Linked DNA regions of Homo sapiens: region 1 is linked to region 2. Evidence: fine-mapped expression QTL. A gene starts in region 2. The other region holds a variant in brackets. All regions are shown on one strand. Distances are from middle to middle.

The links.
Region 1: its variant is fine-mapped to the expression of LINC01828 in pancreas (GTEx, PIP 0.98).

Annotation. Positions count from the first base shown.
Region 1 is chr2:67,038,296-67,041,215 of GRCh38, forward strand. No RefSeq gene overlaps it. Among named protein-coding and RNA genes, the nearest start is that of LINC01828, 47 kb to the right of the region's middle. The variant T/C (reference allele first, on the strand shown) is at 1,056.
Region 2 is chr2:67,084,882-67,087,801 of GRCh38, forward strand. It overlaps LINC01828 (long intergenic non-protein coding RNA 1828), which reads left to right and starts at 1,565. Exons shown (of 5, transcript NR_110564.1): 1 at 1,565-1,674.

The DNA of each region.
Region 1 (2,920 bases), 47 kb before region 2:
AGACCTGAAAACTGGGCAAGCTGAAGTTCACCTCAGTCTTTTTGGTGTCTCCTGCCCTTCTGGTAGGTCTTCTTTCCATCCAGAGGCCAGGCCCGCCAGTTGCTGTTGGGCACACAGAACAGTCCAGGCCAGTCCTTCAGGCTCCTGCCTGTTTCTGCACCCTTTACCGCCCTCTCATTCCCCTCCACCTCATTTCAACCTCAGGGGCCTTCTTTCAGCTCCTGGAAGGAATGGTGCTGTCTCACCATCAGGGCCTCATATGCTTTCTGCCCAGTATTCCCCTGCAGCGTTCCTTCTCATTTTTCAGATCACTGCCTTAGAATGGTCTGCTCTAAATTGGAGAAGCCATCCCTGTTTTTTATCCTTTCTAAATTTGTTTTTCATTGATACATAATATTTGTACAATTCATGGGGTACATGTGATATTTTGTTACACGCATAGAATGTGTGATGATCAAGTCAGGATATTTACGATATCCATTACCTCGAGTGTTTATCGTTTCTATGTGTTGGGATAATTTCAAGTCCTGTCATTGTCTTCCACAGCACTTTCCACAATCAGTGATGAGATACTCATGCTTTCACTTTCTTCTTTTTCCTCACCGTGTTGCTCAACCATGGCATGGCTCTTTCACACACCCCTGAATATACAAGGCCTTGCACAGTGTCTGGCATATAGAAGCTTAATTTACACTTGTTGAATGAATGAATGAATGAATACCAATCAATTGTGCTTCCCAATTTGGCTTTCCAAGTTTGACAACTGGGATGAAATATCCAGAAAGAATTTGTCCTTATTTTCTTTCTCTGTCACTACCTAATGTGGTTTATACAATATATAATTTTGTTTCCTTCCTTCTCTAACCCTCAAAGTGGAAATTCCCACTATTGTGGGAATTTCAACAGCTGTACGTATGAGGAGGAAGGTCACATTTTGGCAGGCATTAATTTACACCACACGGCAAATACTGTCGGACATGGTGGAAGAATTCCTGGCCTTGCTTCCAGTAGACCTGATTTTGAATATTGCCTTATATACACATTAGAGTAAATCA[T/C]TGCACCTCTATGAACTTCACTTTCCTTATCATTGCAATAAATACAAAATGAGCTATCATTTAAGGAAATCTTTTGCAAATGATCAAGAAGACATAATTATTTCATCATTTTTATTCCACTGATCATAAGGTTCTCCTGCATTAGGCGGTGGTCTGGGGTTCCCTGTATACAATCTGGGGTCATGAAATTCACCTCCTTTCCTACCCTCCTTTGCCACCTGGAGTAATCTTCTCAACTTGTGCCCTCTGTGAGGACTCTCCCCTGTTTTCATCCACTGGCACTGTGCTTTTCCTTTGGCCCTGGCCATGTGATTACTTGTAGGAGGATGCTTCCAAGGCCTCTGAGAGTATCAGTAAAAGTGCTAACCCTGTCACCCTCCACTGTTCTTGTTTCTTGGGTTGTATTCATTTTATTAGCAAAATACACAGGCCTAGTGAAATGTAATAGACTTCTACCTCCAAAGATAATTAGAAGCCCATTTATTTGCCAATTCAATGAAAAGGCAACCACAAAAGGAAACCAGCTTTTATCAGCACATGCTCACAGCTCAGATCCCTGTGGTGTTGTGCTGCTCTGGCACTTGTGAAAAAAATAAATCCTGGGAAAACTAGGTTGCATTACGCTTCCTGTTAAACACAGAAAAGAAACAGCTGATGTCTGAATTTGCTAATTTCTGCTGATTCAGTTAGAGGGCAATGCACTCAGCTAACGAGGGATCTATCCAGGTATGTGAATTAAGGCTTGAAAAGAAAGTGTAGGTTGTAATCAGTGCATCCAGCACTGAGTTGGAATCATTATTTAGTGAGCATTTTCCAAAGAAATTAGAAAAGATTTCCAAGCTTAACAGAGCTTTCTGGATTCTTCCTTCTCATGGACATAATATAACAAAAATACAATCCCCTGCCCCTCCTTCAATCCTGGGATTTTAAGCAATGCTCAAGTGACCTTGTTTTCATGTTCTGTGGAAATAAGGTAGATACTGTTATCTCACCTGTATTAATACAGAACTCTGTATAACAAAGAAGTTGTAATTTATCAAAGGTCACACAGTGAGTCATTGCTGTAATCACAAAGCAAATGTTCAGGTTCTCATCTCCTTGGCAGCAAATGTTTTGTTCTCTAGGTTAGACTATCTTCTCTAAACTCTCATCATATGCCACTGCCTTCCCCTGCTGGTCTATCTCCAAGAAAGATACACACACACACACACACACACACACACACACACACACACACACGCTTTACCTATTCATCCCATCCCTCCCCTATCCTCCCAACTATCCACCCACTAGTCATCATCCATCCCATCTAGGATTGTCAGTTTTAAGAAAATCAAGACACCCAGTGAAATTTCAATTCAGATAAACAACAAATAATACTTTAGTATAAGTCCCATGCAATACTTAGGACACATTTTTTCTGAAATATCATTCACCATTTATTTTACATTCAAATTTCACTGGATGCCTGTATTTTATCTGGCAAACCTAATCCGATCACAAATGTCTACATCTTTTCCATTTATCTCCTAATTCCATGACTCTTTCAACTGCTTTTCTCCTTTAACTCCTATTATTTCAGATTTCAGCTAAACAAACTACAACCTATTTTCCCAGTGTTTCCAAACCTGTCCCGAGGCAGAGATGATTGTAAAGAGCCCCTCAGGAGCACTTATTTGTGGTTTCTAGGCTGAAGGCTGGCTGTGCAACTTTGGGTAAGTATTGTAATATCTCTAAAGGTCACTTTCCTTGTCTGTAAAATGAGGGTTTCAACAGTTACTATCTCATAGTCCTGTGGTGAGGACTAAATGACAATGCACAGTCCCTAGCACATAGTATGAGCTCATTAAAGTGGCATTAAATGT
Region 2 (2,920 bases):
CACCATTGATTAGCTCAGGCTATAAAAAGATTCTCTTCAGTGATTGTACTGTTGTGCCTATGTGGTGTGCTTTTTAGGTACAGTAGACAGACAGTTAAATGGATGTGGCCTGCCTCCTTGAGATTCGTGCACTAGAACTAGCACCAACATTGCAGTCAGACCTTCTAAAAATCTACAAGCAACTGCACACCTTAGAACCCTGCCCTTACCACTCTAAGGAAGAAGCTTGAACACACTGTGCCGTAACTGTAGCACTCTCAGGCATATAGCCCACTGGGGGAAATGTTGATGACTCCGATCATTTCAGTTCTTCTCCAAGGGTTCCTGGGATCTCTCCCAAGCACTCTCAAAGACCTCTTCAGAATTCCCTTAGCTGCTTCCTGGGGCTTTCCTCTCCTCTCTTCTCATTACTCCTGACCTCCGCCACTGCCTGATGCTAGTGGCTGCAGCTACATTCCCATTTTTCTCTCATGACCTCAGCCATGCTGGTATAATCTCACCGGGTCTGCTCCCACAGCTGCTGCGTGAAGGTGAGGAGAGAATTCTCTTCCCACTGGCTTTATTCTTTATTGTTAAAGCACAAATGAGAGAGCCATGTGCTTTCAGACTCTTCCAGCACTCCTTTAATTGTTTCTATCTTTCAGCTTTTTGTGCTTTCCTCCTCTTCTTGGGGTTAATCACAAATGCTGAAGAGGTGCATTGGGACAGAATTCAAGGGTCAAGGCCAGGGTTACAGCTGTGGCCATTATCAGCCCTCTTATTTGAGCCTCCCACTAGGGTCCAATGGCCTCCACCTTCCCACCAGACAGGGTGTCCAGGGAGTGCTTATACGGTTTGCAGGACTCTTCCCTGGGAGTAGCCATAAGCTCAAAGAGCCTTTTCAAAAAGTTCTTTGTCCTCTGACATGCTCAGTTTTCAATGATCTTATAGTTTAAGCTGATGTTCTTGCATTCTTTCAATGTAAATACTCCTTACAGATGTTCCATGTTATTGTTGAGGGTTCACTGTGATTAAGAGACAGTCAGCCCTGCATAAAGTTACAGTACAAATTAATTATTTATGTTGGTAAATAATAAATGTTTATTCACATTAACTTTAAAAAATGGGGTATTGTCGTAACTTTAAAGTGTTTACAAAGACCAACTGTCTAAAATATCAAAAAAAAAAGAATAAAGTCAACGAGCAGCCTTTTAAGTTCTTAGGAGACTCTCCATAATCCTCTTAAAAACTTAAACAGGTACTCAAGACCCACAGCCATTTGGTGCTGGGTTCTTCTGCCTCTTGAATTATCTCAGCAAGATGAGCTCTTGCTCACCTTGGCTGAACTGTGTTCACCCAAAATTAATATGTTGAAGCTTTAACCCTTAATGTAACTGTATTTGGAGGTAGGACCTTTAAGAGGTAGTTAAGGTTAAATGCAGCCATGAGGGTGGGATCCCGAGCCAATAGAATTAGTCTCTTATAAGAAACACCAGAGGAGACTTCCTCTCCCCCCCCCTCCCCTCCCCTCCCCTCTTCCCATCTCCCTCTCCTTCTCTCTCTGCTCTGAGAGCCACAGAGGAAAGGCCATGTGAGGTCTCAGCAAGAAGGCCATAGTCTACAAACCAGAAAGGCAGCCCTTACCAGAGACCAACCCTGCCAGACCTTGATCATGGACTCCTAGCCTCCAGAACTGTGAGAAAATTAATTTCTGTTGTTTAAGTCTATGGTATTTCATTTTGGTAGCTCGAGGAGATGAATACAAGCCCATCAGTATGTATCTAGTGTCTGCTTCAAACAGGCTAAACAAATCTACATTTCTTCCTTTGAAGGAAGAGAAGCACAAAATCACATTCCAAGCTATCTTCATAAAAAGCAGCTGAAGAAAGGTAGCATGGGTGAGGTGGGGTATAAAAGACATTTAATGGGCCGGGTGCGGTGGTTCATGCCTGTAATTGCAGCACTTTGGGAGGCCGAGGCGGGTGGATCACGAGGTCAGGAGATTGAGACCTTCCTGGCTAACACGGTGAAATCCCGTCTGTACTGAAAATACAAAAGATTAGCTGGGCCCGGTGGCAGGCGCCTGTAGTCCCAGCTACTCGGGAGGCTGAGGCAGGAGAATGGCATGAACCCTGGAGGCGGAGCTTGCCGTGAGCCGAGATGGCGCCACTGCACTCCAGCCTGGGGACAGAGCGAGACTCCGTCTCAAAAAAAAAAAAAAAAAAAATACATTTAATGTAAAGCCCTAATCAGAGGCAACGTGTAAAAGCAGAGAAAGCCAGATATCTTGGAGTAGGGAGAAAAAAAGGTAATTTATCAAGCCCCATAAATGTTCATTTTAGAGCCAAATGCAAGTCTTTTTTGTCTGAGAACTATTTCTTGTTTACAGAATGAAGTCTGCCCTATCTTGCAGTTCATTTATAGCTACAGATTTGGGAACTGTAGGAGAATTTTCAAGGCAGGCTTTTTCTACTTTTCTTGCAAGTCTTTCCACCCTAGTTTAAAAGAACACAGAAGTCTTTCAGGCCTTTACCCATGTAAGAACAGAAGAATCTCTTTGGTAAAGAATTGGGTAATTGTCTCTGTTATATCTCCGGTGTTTCTTATAAGAGACTAATTCTATTGGCTCAGGATCCCACCCTCATGGCTGCATTTAACCTTAATTACCCCTTAAAGGTCCTCCCTCCAAATACAGTTACATTAAGGTCCTTTGCCATCATGTTTCATGCCTGGATTCTTCAGTCTTTGTAGGACAGTCCCTTCCCTGTGTGGAAAGCCATATATACTATTTTATTTGTGTAACTTTATCTTTCCATATGTAGATAAATTACAAATCTGTGTTTTCATCTCCATTCTTCTAAGTTTAAGCTTCATAAGTCCAAGAGTTTCCTAGATATTTCTAATAGACTATCACATGTTAGCCATCTCACACATCCCATGT